2 separate regions of the Homo sapiens genome follow, and region 1 is linked to region 2. A link means that fine-mapping ties the variant in region 2 to the expression of a gene that starts in the linked region. Tissue or cell type: spinal cord. Region 2 holds a variant in brackets; the other region holds the start of a gene. All regions are shown on one strand. Distances are from middle to middle.

Region 1 (8,104 bases), 57 kb before region 2:
GGCTATAAAGCATTTAATAGCATGGCTGACCCATAGTGAACAGTAATTATGAATACTGTAAGTATACTTCCCTGCTATGAACCAAACTCCACCCCCCAACAAGTAACCAAGAGTTATAAAAGGGTTCAAACTTAGGCTGTCAGAGAACCAAACACAACTGGTTCCTCAATGCAAAATAATTTATTTACTGGCCACCCCAAAGATACAGACAGAGTGGCCACATTCTATGGCAAATCTAACACTGTTCTGGCCATGTTCTGAGTCTCAAGTCAATGGAACATTTATTGGGCACCTACTATGTACTAGGCTAAATAGTGGAGTGGTTAATAGTGTTCCAGGAGTTAGACAACAGTTTGGATCCTAGCCCAGCCACTAACTAGCTATATCACCGCTCAGTTACTTAGCCTCTCACTTTTCTCATCTGTCAAAGAGGGCTGATAATAGTACTTACCTCTTGGGGTTGTTGTGAGAGTCAGCAGATGATGCATTTTCAAATGCTTTGCATAGTGCCTGGCACGTAATAAGTGCACCATAAATATGACACATTAAATTATAGTTTGATTACACTACTAAATTAAAAGAAAAGTGGTCAGCCAGGCGCAGTGGCTCACATCTGTAATCCCAGCACTTTGAGAGGCCAAGGCAGGAGGACTGCTTGAGCCCAGGAGTTTGAGACCAGCCTGAGCAACACAGCAAGACCCTGTCTCTACCAAAAATTTTAAAAATAAATAAATAGCTGGACGTGCTTGTGCATGCCTGTGGTCCCAGCTACTTGTGAGGCTGAGGCAAGAGGAACACTTGAGGCCAGGAGTTCAAGGCTGCAGTGAGCTATGATCACACCACTACGCTCCAGCCTGGTGACAGAGTGAGACCCTGTCTCTACGAAATATAAAATATGAAATAAAAAACAGAGAAGTCACTATTTCAATTATTTTAGAGCCATGAGGATTCTTAAAAGTCTGGATGGAGCCCTCTTCTCATTGTGTGGGTGGGAAAACTGAGCCCCAAAGAAGAAAGTGATCTATATACATAGCTGTGATGGAGAAGGGGTGAGAAGCAAAAAGAAGGGACTAAGTGAGGGGCAGGGAGAAGCACAGAGAATTAACCTGGATTCAAGACCTTCCCTATTTTGGCCTCAACTTCCAACCCACCCTCTCTCACAATTTCCTACATGTGACTCTGCCATTGGCAGGGTAGCCACCTCCTCTCTCTCAAACATGCTCAAAATAGTGCCCCTGCCACGGTGTTCATCACAGTCCTTCTCTCAACATTTATCGATCACCAGCTAGATGGCTGGCACTACCCTGGCCACCGGGATACAGGCGAAATTCCACACCCTCCCTCTTCTGAACTTTCACAGGAGTTACCCTCAACTGACACCTCCTTATGCGCTGCACAAGTGATTCGTGTCTTTTGCTCCTTCATACCCTCCCACAAAGCCTACACAGAGCCATGCAACTGTCAGACTTTAATAAATATTATGATTGACTAGTAAGTAGGAGGATGAAAGAGAAGAAACAGAGGCTAGTCATTATACTCCAGCAGTATGTCTATTTTTTAAGAATGGTTTGACATTCAGGATAGGCAAAGCAGCACTGCCTACTTAATTCCCTTAGAAAAGTCACCTCCCTTGGCCTGCAGCGTTTAGCAGGCTGACTCATTCCAGTTGCTCTGCCAGTCTTTTTTTTTTTTTTTTTTTTTTTTGAGACGGAGTCTCACTCTGTTGCCCCGGCTGGGGTGCACTGGCAGGATTTCCGCTCACTGCAACCTCCACCTCCCGGGTTCAAGCAATTCTCCTGCCTCAACCTCCTGAGTAGCTGGGACTACAGGCATGTGCCACCACACCCCGCTAATTTTTGTATTTTTAGTAGACACAGGGTTTCACCATGTTGGCCAGGCTGCTCTCAAACTTCTGACCTCAGGTGATCCGCCCGCCTCGGCCTCCTACAGTGCCGGGATTACAGGCGTGAGCCACCACGCCCGGCCGTGCTCTGCCAGTCTTAAGAGGAAATTCCTGGTCCTGCACACTCAACAAAAGCAGAGAGCAACTTGGCAGGACAGACAGCATGCTGGGAAAAGGAGGCAGTGGCTCCGGGATCAGAAGTGGCGGGATTTTTTGTTTCAGTCTTGCAACCAACTTTCATTGAGCAATGACATAGTGGAGGGCGAATAAGATCAAAGGGGCTGTACTTGGTATGGAAAAACCACAGAAGGGTGGAAGCTAAGCACCTTCGCCTTGAGAGTTGGGTCCATCCATACCTGAAATGGACCCCTGTGGACCCTTGACGAACAGGGCAGTGGCCTAGACATTCTCGTGTGTCTGTCACTCACCAGCTGGGGACTTTGTCAACTCATTCCTCTGTCTAAACCTCAATGTTCTGCTCTGGGAAATGAAATCAAAACTGTTAGTCCTCCCTCCCAGGGTAGTTATAAGAATTAGATAATATGTGAGTGAGTAAGCATTCTAAACACCATATAAATGTGGCTAGAAGTATTATTCACCAGTATGATCTAGTATTTTTGGCCCTCCTCTTCCCCTAAAGCGGAAGTAGGGCCGGGCGCAGTGGCTCACGCCTGTAATCCCAGCACTTTGGGAGGCCGAGGCAGGCGGATCACTTGAGGTCAGAAGTTCGAGACCAGCCTGGCCAATACGGTGAAACTTTGTCTCTACTACTAATAAAAAATTAGCTGGGTATGGTGGCACATGTCTGTAATCCCAGCTACTCAGGAGGCTGAGGCAGGAGAATCGCTGGAACCTGGGAGGCAGAGGTTGCAGTGAGCTGAGATCGTACCACTGCACTCCAGCCTGGGCGACAGAGCCAGACTCCCTCTCAAAAGAAAACCCAAAAAAGCTGAAGTAGGACTACGTCAAAGGCCCACCTGGGCAGGCTGGTCCAATACAGGACAAGGGACCTAAAGATAGATGGTATTTCATTTGGACCTGCAAATGAGTAAGAATGCCAGCTCCGGGTCTATTAAAAACCCCGCTCGGATGTCTCCCACAGGCAGAGCTGAGGTGGGGCCTTGCCTGAGGCTTCCAGGGATGCGCTGGCTTCCCTTCCAACCTCCTTTTCAGACAGCTCTGCCCATTCAGCGGTTCCTAATGCAGAAAGAATGGGCTCCCCGGAGCCTGCCGGCTTCCTTACAGGTCACCGCTAATGCCCTGTGACAGGCCCTTGGCCCACCCTGCCAGGCGGGCCTGGGCATCCTCGCGGCGGCCCATCCCTCGGGGCCGATTCCTCCGCAGCCATTAACAAAGGGGGTCTGGGGACTGCCTCGGAACTAGGGGGCCGCGTGGAGTGGGATGTCTAGGCCAGGGCCCGCCAAGGAGGAGCGGCCGGCTCCCGCCTCCGGGCCTGGGCAGGCAGCGCTAGGGGCCGGTCGGGAAGCACGAAGGAGCCCGGCCGTGGGTCCGGAGGCCGCAGTCGATGGGGACAGTTGCGGGGCCGGGGGTACCCACCTTCTGCTCGACGCCCTGCAAGCCCTGGCCCAGCTCCTCCCTCTGCCGGGAGAAGTCCTGGTGGCTGCGCCGGACCTGCTGGACCTCCTCCAGGACGTGGTGGACGCACCAGCCCGAGAAAGCGGCCGCCGCCACCAGGGCGAGGTAGAAGAGAAAGTTGAGCGCCCTGCCGAGCCTGCGCGAGCAGGACGCCGAGGACGAGGCGGCGGCGGCGGCAGCGGCGGCGGAGGCGGAGGAGGAGGAGGAGGACTTGCCGCCGCCGCCGCCGCCGCCGCGGTGGCCGCCCTTGCCGTGCGCCTGGTTCTGCGGGTGCTGCTGCGGGTGCTGCTGCGGGTGCGGCGCGGGCGGCGGCGGCGGCTGCTGCGGCGCCGGCGGCGGCTTCTTCGCCACGTCATCCGCGCCGCCCGACGGGTGGGCACCCTTCTCCGAGGGGCTCGCGGCGCCGTGGCCGCCCTTGGAGCCCCTTTGTTTGGCCGAGGGCATGGCGGGCGCGGCGGCGGCTCGGGCCGCGGGCTGGGAGGCGAGCGAGCGCGGCGCGCGGCCCGGGAAACTTGCAGGGGCTCCCCCGGGACTGGGCGAGCGGCACGCGGGCGCTGCTGGCGTCGGAGCGGCGAGAGGACGCGCGGCCGGGGAAGGAGGCCGGGCCGAGGAGGCGGGAGGAGGGGGCCTGCCTCCGCCGCCGCGGCGCCGACCCCGCCTCCCGGTAAGGGAGGCCGAGCGAGCCGAGCCGGGAGAGCTTGCCACGCACGCCGGCCCGGCGGCCCCTCCTCCCCGCCGCCACGACCCCGGAGAGGGAGGGCCGGGCGGGGTCTACGGGGGCCGGGAAGCCGGCGCGGGGGTGGCTGGGCGCGGGGCGGGGTCCCGGCGGGGTCTGCGGAGGCCGGGGTGGGCACCGAGGTGGCCGCGAGGGGAGGGGAGAAGAGCGGAGCGGAGGGGAGGGGACGCGGCCGAGGTGGGGCTGGCGGCCCGGCGGGTTCCACGCAGGCTGGGGGCGGAGGGCCAGATCGACCCCAGCCGGGGCGGCCGAGCAGGGTCCACGGGGGTCGGGGATGGGCGGCCAGGCGGGGTCGGAGGGACGAAAGCCGGGGTGAACCTGCGCCGCGGGCCAAGCGCGACCCCCTCCCTTCCCGACCTGTGCGGAGAGGAGAGAAATGAAGGGGGGCGCCCAAGGAGCCCTGGCCCCGGGAGTGGGAGTCAGCGGGTGGGAACAGATCGCCCTTCCTTTCCGCTGGGAATTGGGGGACTCCCCCTGCTTTCACTCTCCCAGCCCGCCATGGGGTTGGGCCTTGTCCTTTGCCTTGGGTTTGAAGGCGGAGACAAAAAAGGCTGTCCAAAATCCAGCCAGCTTGGGAGGCATGGTTGATGCGAGTTAGCAAAGATTCTCGACTGTGGTAAGTCTGTTCAAGGGGACGCATTCACCAAGTGTCCCCGTTAGCCAAGTTAGCCTGCTGTGGCCAGCTCTTTACTTTTTCCCCCCGAAGCCCCTTCAGCTCTGTTTTCTCTTTCGGGGTCATGAAGTTTGTCCACGGCCCCTACTCCTGACAGCCTCTGGGATGGGTGCTGCGGAGGCAGCAGCAGCCACACAGAAAGAGGCAGATCAGCGTTGTCACCCCTACTTTTGTAAAAGGAAATCTGGTATTGCCAGGCTGTGTGGTTAGCGACTCACATATGTTCTCGAAATCTCACAAAAGCCCTGTGAGGTAGAAATTATTTTACCCATTTTATAGGAAGGAAATTGAGACTGAGCGAGCCGGCTTCGGATTGGCTCAAGGTCACATATAGTCATCATTCGAACCTCACTCAGTCTGCTTCTTTCTGAAGTCTGTGCAGCTTAATCACTTCAGAATGGGAAGGAAACGGGGGCCCAGGGAAGTTAAGCAACTTGCCCACTCACTCAGTCTAATTGGTGCCGGGGCAGGGACAGAACTCACTCAATTCCACTGCTTTCCCCAGTTTCTGGTGAGTGATGTGTGCCTGGCACTGTGTGCACCTGGCACTGTGTGTAGTAGGAATGCTGTTTCTTCTGTCTGTAACCTCCTCCCAGTTCTGTAAACAAAGACAAAACCATGCCCTGCCCTTAAAGCCTATAGGGTTCAAATGCCACCTCTTTGATGATGCTTTCCCTATAACACCATTTGATACCTCTCATGGGACTTAGCAAGTAATTGCAACGAGAGGCATATATGTTAGTTCAATATAGCAAACCTTTGTTGAGGGCCCACTGTGTGCCAGGTATGTCTCCCCTCCCTGAGGACTGGAAGCAACCATAGTTTATATTTCTCCTTCTTTCTCGCTTTATAAGGTGTTGCTAAAAGCCTCCAGTGAATGAATGAACACTTGTGTGCCTGCCCTCAAGGAGCCTGCACTACACTTGGAGATATATACAGAAACCTGTTGAGGGCTAACTTAGGTAAATTGGGAACATAAATGTAAAGAGATTTGGAAAGCAAACCATTGGCCTGTACATGGGCAGGCTTTGGGGGCAGAAAGACCTTGAGCAGTGCCTTGAAGAATGATTTGCATATGAGGAGAGCAGGGAGGATATTTCTGTGGCGGAAATGGGGTGAGCCCAGGACACCTGTTGGCCATGAGGGTGTGTTCTACATGTAGAGAAGAAAGAGATGAACTGGGTGGAGCGGGTCCAGATTGCAGAAGGCTATAGAAGCCAAGCTGGCAGATAGAAGAATCGCTATTAGTGTGGGAGGACAGAGTAAATTATAGCAGGTTCTGGACTAGAAATACAACCATCTGCCCCAGACAGAGAGGAACACCCTACTTCAGCTAAATACCAGGAGCTATTGTAGGAGCCTCTAGGTTCAACAGGGCACAGGTCTCTGACCTGTGGCGCGGGGAGACAGCAGAAGAAATCAGAAGACACTCATCACAGGAACCTTGTTTAAAAACTATTCAGCTGAGTTCGGGTTGTGTTGTTAAAATCTCTAGCGCGCAAAAAGAGGTTATCCCCCTTCAAGCAGTTCTCCATGTTAGGGGCAGAGGCAGTGATAACTGGTAAAGCAGCTTGCTGCCAAGATCTGGCCTTGAAAGCAAGAGCCCTACTCCTTTAGTGCTACCAAAGTGTGTGACCTTGAGAAGTATCCCTAAACTCCTCTAGATTTCAGGGTCACCCTTTCTGTAAGGTGCATCTTTAAGGACCTGTCTTATTATTAATCCGTTTCTTAGAGAAATAGTCATCTGATCCTTATCAAAAATAATTAAATGATATTTAAATTTTTAAAAATTGATCCAGGCCAAGTACAGTGCCTCACACCTGTAATCCCAACGCTATGGGAGGCCAAGGCAGGAAGATCACTTGAGGCCAGGAGTTCAAGACCAGCCTAGATAACAGCAAGACCCTGACTCCACCAAAAAAAATTTAGCTGGATGTGGTGGCACTCAGGAGGCTGAGACAGGAGGATCGCTTGAGCCTGGGAGTTCAAGGTTATAGTGAGCTATGATGGCACCACTGTACTCCAGCCTGGGCAACAGAGCAAGACCCTGTCTCAGGAAAAAAAAAAAAGCAGACTGTAGGCCAGATATGAGAATGGACGGTTTCTCAATTTTTACCTCTACTGAGCACTGAATGAATGAATAGAGAGTAGGACGATGGGACTGTTAATATTTTCAGCATTTCCCTCTCATTCTTTTCCTCTGGGAGATAGTACATACAATGGTTAAGACACAGGCTATAGAATAGACTGACTTGGGTTCAAATTCAGCTCCATGACTGACTTTGGAGTGTGACCTCTCTGAACCTCAGTATCTTCAGCTATAAGACAGGAGTAATTGCTACCTCACTAGGCCAGGTGTGGTGGCTCACACCTATAATCCCAGTACTTGGGGAGGCCGAGGCAGATGGACTGCTTGAGCCCAAGAGTTCAAAACAAGCCTGGGCAACAAGGCAAAACCCTGTCCCTACAAAAAATACAAAAAAAAATTATCCAGGCATGGTGGAGTGTGACTGTAGTCCCAGCTACTTGGGGAGCTGAGGTGAGAGGATCACTTGGGCCTGGAAAGTCAAGGCTGCAGTGAGCCCTGTTCACCATTGCACTCCACCCAAAAAAAAAGAACAACCTTGCTGTTATGCGGATTAGACAAGAGACACCATATGATACTGGGCATATGGCAATGCTCAGTGAATATTGGACAGCTAATACAATTTGCAGAGTCACTGAGGAAAAGTATAGCTTCAGAGAGCTTCTGTGTCCAGATTTCAACGATTTTCTTTCATCATTATTTCGTGGGGCTCCCAGGACCATATGTGGCTCACAAACCACAGGCTAGGATGTGTTTAACGTTAAAAGCAAGCAGTGTGTTTCTCTGAAGTGTGGCTCCACCATGGTGTTCGGTTACACCCAGAGGAGGAGGCTGGTGGGCAGTCATAGAAGTGCATCTTCCAGAGCAGGAAGGGATCAACAGCTCTTCCTGGAGACTTCCATTCTCCTACCCCAGTTTCTGAGCACAGCATGAATCTAGAGGAGTTTCTCTTCTGCTTTTCCTCCTAGTTTTGTTTCCTCTATCCCTTTTCCTTGCTAAAGTGTGTTGGATGGTCAGGAATGTGGGCGGAGAAGAGGGGGAGCTGGAGACATCTCATCCTTTCATCCAGCTTGTGTAAAAATGCCTCAGAACTCCCTCATACCACATGCA
Region 2 (8,104 bases):
GCAGCTGGTCACTCCAGTATAAAGGACAACTACCCTGACTCATGGTCACCTGCTCCAACTTATGTCATAGCTCAAAACAATACTTAAATCCTTACAAAGCTAACAAAGGAAGTAATGTTGCCATGTGTCATTGTCACAGAATTACCAGAAGTTTGGGGGATTTGGGTGTTCATCTTTCTATTGTGGAGTTTTTAGGGTGGTGATGGCAGTTGTGTGGTGGTTGTCATTTGGCAGGAATTGAAATTGGAGGCTTCTGTCATTCTGATTACTTATCCAACGAATGACACAAATAAGAGCATGTTTGTAGGGAAGAACTCAGGTGGGGACAGCACCTTCTATTTAATCTCTTAACCTGTATTATTAGGTTGTATATTTTAGGAGAAGAGAGGAAAGTGGCAAAAGGAGGCACAGATACAAATTTATACAGATCACCAGCTAAGTTTGGCCACAGTGGTTTGCCAAAGAATTTCAATAACTAATACTTAGAGTGCTTACTGTGCACCCTGCTAAGCACTTCACATGCTTTATTTCACTTTATCCTCAAAATAACCCAAGGAAATAGCTATCATTGTTATCCCCAGAGACCAAGATCTCATGGATAGTGAATGTCAGAGCCAGGACTGGAACCATAGAGGAGTCTGTGTTGTAACCACTGAACAACTGACTTTCTACCCTGCTTTAAAATGTTGCCTGTTGTTTGTTGTTGTTGTTTTTGAACGGTGGTGGCCAATCTGCCTCCACAATCCAGACATAATTTCGGCACTAAACAGAAATACTTTAGTCTATACAAACTTCATGTAAGTAGTTCCTGCATGAAACTATTTCCCAAGTAATACAGCACCGATTTACACCTGGCAGAAGGCATAGTTTTGATGTGAACAGTTGGGGGAAGCTTGTTTCTCTACACCCTCAAGCACGCCCACAGCAGGAGCTGAGCAGCAGGCCAGACGGCACAGAGCCCTCCTGGGACTGGTTATTTACATTAACCAAGGTGGAAACTTCTCCCGGAGATAGGTGCTGCCAAGAACCCTAGAGGAAGTAAGACGCTTTATCTTTTGCACGCACGCCAAGTCTTCAGAGGGCCTGGATGGGTGTGACTCCAAGGAGCTAATCGTCCCGTGCAGGTGCAAATCTAGACCCGTGTTTATGTGGAGGTGTAGACGCAACTGGAGATGACCCGGTTAGTGGCTGACGTGCGTGGGAAAGCCCACCAGCAGCGTTGTTGGTTGGGTTGTCTCTGTAAGTGTGGACAGTGTGTTGGTGGGCACCCAGTTCCGATTGCCCCGTCTAGACAGGGGTGTGCGGGCACTCAATGTTCCACGCGCGGCCGGGAGCTCGCAGTGTGGTCCACGCCAGTGCGCCTGGAAGCCCAGGGGATCTGTCCGGCACTCCACTGGAGGCTTGGCCCGCGGCTTCGCCCACCTCCCCAGAGCCCCGCTCAGCCCCCGCTCCCCCCGCTCAGCCCCCGCTCAGCCCCCGCTCAGCCCCCGCTCAGCCCCCGCTCAGCCCCCGCTCAGCCCCCGCTCAGCCCCCGCTCAGCCCCCGCTCCCCCACTCGGCCCCGCCCCCAGTGCCCTGGCAGGCCCCGCCCCCAACGCCGGGCGCTCCCGTCGGCTCGGCGGCCTCAGTTCCGTAAACACTTCTCACCCCGCCCCCGGCAGCCCGGACCGCACCACTCGCCGCGCGGGGGAACCGTGCCCTCTCGCATCCGAAACACCCTCCCATCCGAGCTGTTCTCGGCCTCTCTGGTTCAAACTGACGAAGACTGTTTCTCTAATAGGTTCAGTCTGTGAGCGCTCGGCTTTCGGAGACTGAAGGGCCCTGGATCCCCTTGCCCCGTCGCGCCGTCGTCCCCCCGCTATCCGGTTTTGTGATGGCCGCGCCGTGGCTGCCTCCCTAGAGTCCCTCAGGGCCCTTTAAATACCGCGTTGGGGGGGACACTGGGGCTGGGGGGGTTTGTTGGGCTGGTGAGTTTTCGAGGTGACTGTGCTGTGCTCGGTGAGGGGACGCCCAGAGAGCCCTGACCCGGGGTCACTCCGTCGCCGTTCTCCTCTTGTCTACGTGCTGGACCCGGTGCGTATCCATCACGGGGGAGGCGTTGCCGGCTCGGAGGTGACCGGCCAGGTCCAACGGAGGGGACACCGCTGCAGCCCGAAGGCTCCCCTGCCCTATCTCGGAACTCCATCCTGGGAAGGCGGGGTCAGGGGCCATCAAGCTCGGCTCCTAGTTCATGTCTTCCCACTCCGCGTCCCCTTGTTTGACCTCGAACTGCCGTCCCGCGTGGGAGCGGGGAGCGGGGCACCGAGTGGCCGCCCCGCGTGTCGGGGTGGACACGGACTTCGGGCCTCGGAGGCCGCTTCGCCGCTGTTTAAATCCTGCTGGACAGGTACCAGCGGCATCCCGCCATCAGGGGCCCAGGGCACCCCCTTCCCCCACACTCCTCGGCCGGGCTGGAGTAGGGAACTGAGCCAGGGTAGAGGCAGGGCGGGCCCGGCAGCGTGTGTTTGGGATTTGTTGCCGTGGTTTCCCCGGCACTCAGCTCTGCCTCCGCCGTCCCCTCCCCCAAGGGTTTGTTTTGACAGGAAACCTGGTGCTGCTGGAGGGGAGGGGCGGCCAGAGGACGTGGGTGAGGTCGTGCAGACTGCTGCTGCGTCCCCTTGCCGGGACCTTTGGTTAAGGGGAAGAGGTGGAGAAAAGCCGATTGGGCCTGGGCTCGAACGCTGAACCCTCAGGTGTTGCTTGTGCTTCCCAAAGCTGCTACTGTAGGTGGCACCACTGGGGGTAATAGCAATGATTTGAGGTGGCATATGGATGAACATAGTTACTTGTTTTCGTTACTATTAAGAAAATCTGTTCCATTAAGTAAGCAGTTTCACAATGATAGAGTTTCCTTTTAAAATAAATATATTTAAATGCAAAAATCTAGTCAAGATAGAGACGCGGTTACTAAATTATAGTAAAGGTAAGGAGGGAGACGTAGAAATAGTCATGAAGAGTGGCACTCAAACGACTTAAGTTTGGGAAATCTTAGATGGTTGTCCTGCTACCTTAACTGTGAAGAAACTGGACAAGTTGTCCTTGTCCCCAGTGGGTGTCTCAGCACCCATGGTCACCAGCCCAGTCAGGGACTTTGCTCTTCTTACCTGCCAACGGAT[A/G]ATGAGTTAATCTCAGTGGTTCCCACTTGAGGAGGCTCCCTGCCGTGGTCCTTTTCCTCTCTTCTCTAGGGATTTCATGCATCACCCTGACAGCCAGTGGAAGTTGCCTGATTTGAAGAGGCCCAGGGCCGAAGATACCCAGTCATGTGTGGAAGCAGCTTCAATGCCATTTTGTGAGAGGTTGAGGGCCCCAGAGGGGGAAGCACAGGTATTAAAACAAAACAGACCAGCAAGTGTGGGAGGAGTGCTTTCAAATGTGAAAAGTGCCAGGAATCCTTCTCCCTGATGCTGTAATGCCACGTGTAACGTGAACATCTGCTTTGTGGACAGTGACTGGCTTGTTGGCTTTTATCTAGCTCTTTGTTGGTTCTAACTTGATGAAGACCAGTATTGTCTAGATGAATGGTATGGGCCCCTATCCCTCTGCTCTATGGTTTTTGCTTTGCTGTGGATGAATAACTTTAGTGCTGCTATTTAAGACTGATTCTAAAGCAGCATTTTGCAGAAGATGGAAATTTTTCACATCATCTGCAATTTTTTTCTTTAGAGCCCAGACTTAGTCCTCTGACTCCCTTCCCTTTACTACACATATGTGAAGGCTTGTCCTTGCAGCTGACCTCGATCTAGTGTTGAAGGATGGTACACACTAGAAGTTTCTTGAAATTTCTTTTTTGCGTGAGCTAACCTTAACTGGATGGGTTCAATTCCTCAAGGCCCTGCTGGGTAATCTGAATATTTCACTCCAAAATGTTTATGACTGTAAGCAGTTAACCTTTTTGCTAATACGTGGGGTCTAACTAGGGATTTTGCGGTGCATAAAGAATGGCTCCCTCCTAGAGGATTTTCTGTCACTGTAGCGGGGTGGTGAAGAATTGTTTTGGGTGACGTACTCCTTCAGTGATGCCCTTCACAGAATAGCACTTGAGCAGCCATACCAGGATAAGATCAGCTTGCTACCACATGTGCAAGTGTCCACAGGGTGATGGGTAGATGGATTTGGCAGAGTGGGAGTGGAAAGAATGAGCAGCACACCAAATTTTCTCCAGCCAAACTGGAGTGGTAGAGAGCATGGGTTTTAGGGATCCGCTTCCTGGATTTGAGTTGTGCCTCTACACTGCTGTGAACCCTTGGGCAAGTAACGCAACCTCTCTGGGCCTCAGGATCTTATTATAAAATGGGGATAATACTGATACATTAGCTAACAAGGTTATAATAAGGATTCAAGGAGATAAAATATATAAAGAACTTATCATAGAACAGTTATTGAGTGCTTATTACTACCTCAATAATAAGCACTCAATTACTGTTAGCTGTAATTGTTGTTATTTGCTACACGTGAGTTTCTTTAACCTCCTGGAACTGTGGGTCTTTGCTAGTTTGAATTTTTGGTGCCTTGCAAATGCACTGAAGTAGGCACTGGGAATTGGAGAGGAGAGTCATCGCTTCCACCAGCAGCTTAAAATCTAGTGGGAGACAGATATGCACACAAGTGTAGTACTGTAAGTGACTGCGTAATGGGAATATGAGTAATGTGAGTGAGGCAGAAAAGAAGGAAAACTCAAGGTGTCTTATGAATAGGAGTGTGGCGTAATTAGTTCATGCAGCTGTACTCACTGAGCTCCTGCTCTAGCCCTAGCGGTGTTCTAAGCTCTAGCTGGCTCATTAGATGCAGTGAGTGTAGCAATCAGGGAAGGTTACCTCGTAGTTGGTGACATTAAATTTCAAATCTGAATGACAATAGGGAGCCAACCACAAGGAGATCAGGGAGAGGAACATTTCAGGGGCAGAGAACAGCAGGTATGAGTGCCCCGAAATAGGAAGTTTGGCATGTCTGAGGAACGCAAAGAAGATCATGAAGGGTTAGTGGGAGAACACTGCAGAATAAGGTGGGCAGAGTTAAGATCACAGAGGGTTGTAAACCATGGCCCAGTGACTTAGGAAAAGGGAACCCACCTAGGGATGAACTCTTAAAAAGGATTATCTATTTTGCCTTTTCTGGAGGGCTCTGGCCTATTTCCTGTTTTATTCTTTAGGCACTGTTCAAGAAGGACATCAGGACAAGTTTGACTGTCTAGAAGAGTTCTTGTAATAGAGTGGTATTTAAGCTATCACAGCAGTGGGCACAATCAGAATTTCAAAACTGCAAGAGGTTGGACTGTTCTGAATTTGAATCTTGAAGTTTCAGTTCAGCCTGTCATCTTCTCTTTTAACCTTCTATTTGGAAATACTTTCAAACTTACAGATAAAGTCGTGAGAATAGTATAAGGAATACCATGTTGTCTACCTTTTTCTCAGATTCACCTATTAACATTTTGCTCTATGTGCTTTATTATTTTTTCTCTCTTGCATTTGAATCATTTGAGAAAAAGTTGTATATGTCATGGCCCTTTATTCCTAAATACAAAACCACAGTACATTTCAACTTCAGTATATTTAACATTGGATAACAGACAGTAGATTCAAATATTGTTAACAGTGCTATTGATTGACTGATACTGTCCTTTACAGCATTTTTGCTTCAGTATAGGATCCACTCTAGGATCACCTATTGCACTCAGTTATCAAGTGTTTTTTTTTCATTTGGAACATATTCTCAACCTTTCTTTGTTTTTTATGACATTACATTTTCGGAACTTGTAACTTCTTTTAATAAGAATAAAATAATAGTTGACATCCGTCAGGCACTTACTAGGAGCTTAAGTACTTGACAGATACTATTTCAGTTAATCTTCACAACACTTCTACAAGGTGGATACTATTATTGTCCCATTTTACAAATGGCGAGTTCTCTGTTTCTAGTCAGTAAATAATCAAGAGGAGCCGGGATCAAGAACCCAGTCCACCTAGCTCCAGAGGCAATGTTCTTATGGCTTCAGTGACATGTATTATCATCAGTGTATCTTTGCAATTCTGAACCAGTGCAGAACTATTTGCAGATAGAGTTGCTGCAGAAAGGAAATCAGGAAGTAAAGCTGCACACGAGCTGAGGAATCACAAGCAAATTAAAAACCAATCTCCTCTCTATCTGTAGTGAAATACAGCACTAGCCCCTTCAAGTCCTTGTACCCATTCACACCTCTTAAATGTCAGTAGTCTTACTACCATTCATTTATTCAACAATAAATATTTGAATAAATATTTGAATGCTTGCTGCATTCCAGTGATGGTCTCAGAAGAAATGACATTATATTTATTATCACAAAGTGATGGAATAATACAATCAAAAATGTGAATATGACAGTACTTTTCTTTGAATAGTGACCTGCTATCGTGTTGGAGGCTTTGCTTGGAGTCATCTTCAGTCTTTTCTGTTGACTTTACCTTTGACCAGTGATTAAATCCTCCAGGTATGATGAGATGTGATGTTTCTGAAAAGTTGTTTGATTTACTTGTGAGTTGCAGTGGCAAAGGTTAGGTAGATCTAAGTTTGCATAAGGAGTATTACCTTTCTTAAAGATACAGCCTGGTTTCATTATCATCAGTCTAAAGGATAATCCAAAATAGTTTTTAAAGCAATCTAAATATCCTCAGTGCCTTTTGAATCAAGTAGGTTTGTCCCCAGGTGACTTACTTGGAAACTCAAGACCGAGAAAGGTAAGAGCAGGTATGAAGGAACTTGCGGAAGACCATTCACACAGTGATGGGCCATTCGCTTTTGGTTTTTGTCTGTCAAACAAGTGCCAAGAGTTCTGTTCTATGTTAACTACCAGCCTTGTTTGTCTGTTGAAGAATATGGTGTTATCCTGACATAAAACTGTTCTTCCCTCCAGAGTGTTTAATTCCTGAGGCAATGATATTAACAAAAAAAAGCAAATAATAGAAAACATTTGTATACTGTTTACTGTGTCAATGACTGTTCCAAACACGCTGCATGTATTGGGTACCTGAAATCTCACACCAACCCTATGAATTAGGTATTCTTAGTAAGCCTATATGAGGAAACAGACAAATTTTTAATAGAGTAATAATGGGCATTTTGGCTTCAAATACAGGTTTCTGTTTGGATACACTAAGGCCCAGTTGTAATGTGGAGGCTTCTACCCACTAAACAAGAGTTTCTAAACATTTTGAAGCTTTTAAATTTTCCATTGCAGCCCCTGTGCCAGGAACTCTACCTCCAGTGAATTGCTGGAAGAAAGTGTAGTTTCACATTGTTAAGCATGACTGCCATAAGCACATTTAATTTCTCAGAACTTCTAGTGATGCCTCATGGAACTCTGGGTTTGGAGCATCATATATTCCTTGCTGAGAGAAACCTTATGACTGGCCCAACCTCTCAGAAAAATGTGCATAAAGTCACACGGCACATTAATGATGAACCCAGGCCACAAACCCTGGACTCCTGACTCCCAATTATTTTAATCTTTGCACTTTTCTGCCTTGTTAAACACAGTTAAGAAACCTACCAAGTGTGCTATCCAGCTAAAGTAGAAAAATGAAATGGACAGTTAAAACTATTAAGCTAGTTCATAAATTCTCATGGCTGGAAGCTCTTATTCAATTTCACTTGGAAAAACAGCCAGAGCTCATTTGAGGGCAACCGAAGTAGAGAAAAATTAAGAGCAGAGCATGCATAGCACAGCGGTTACATTACAGGGGAATAACTGGGGGAAAAATGACTTAAAGTGGAAACAAACTTTAAGATATTCAAATAAGAGCATGACAAGGACCTGAGAATCTTGAGGTTTAAATCTAATAAGATAGGCTTAAGCAGTAGATTCTCTGCTCTAAGGCTTGGGCTTTGGCAGTACCAGCCTGGTTAACGTGTCATGATATCAGGTTGCAAATGTTCTGGTTGAAGCTGTACCAAATGAGATTCAGGGATTCTGATTTAGCTGACACTGAATGAATACTTGTCATATACTTGGCGCTGGTCATGGACAAGACACAAACTCTGCTTTATTAAGGAGATTCAGAAGTAGCCATGGGAAGAAAGGAACAAGGAACTAA

What was found. PIP is the estimated chance that this variant, and not a neighbour inherited with it, causes the effect.
Region 1: CKAP4 starts here. The variant in region 2 is fine-mapped to the expression of CKAP4 in spinal cord (GTEx, PIP 0.96).

The regions. Positions count from the first base shown.
Region 1 is chr12:106,243,909-106,252,012 of GRCh38, forward strand. CKAP4 (cytoskeleton associated protein 4) reads right to left here and starts at 4,112. Exons shown (of 2, transcript NM_006825.4): 1 at 3,461-4,112. The coding sequence starts at 3,943. It overlaps LOC124903008 (a long non-coding RNA gene), which reads left to right and starts at 4,364. Exons shown (of 2, transcript XR_007063443.1): 1 at 4,364-4,851; 2 at 5,763-8,104. RefSeq lists silencers at 3,258-3,347, 4,008-4,317, 4,348-4,687.
Region 2 is chr12:106,300,870-106,308,973 of GRCh38, forward strand. It overlaps TCP11L2 (t-complex 11 like 2), which reads left to right and starts at 1,864. Exons shown (of 10, transcript NM_152772.3): 1 at 1,864-2,072. RefSeq lists a silencer at 1,502-1,621 and enhancers at 1,642-2,527, 1,702-1,781, 1,792-1,931. The variant A/G (reference allele first, on the strand shown) is at 3,155.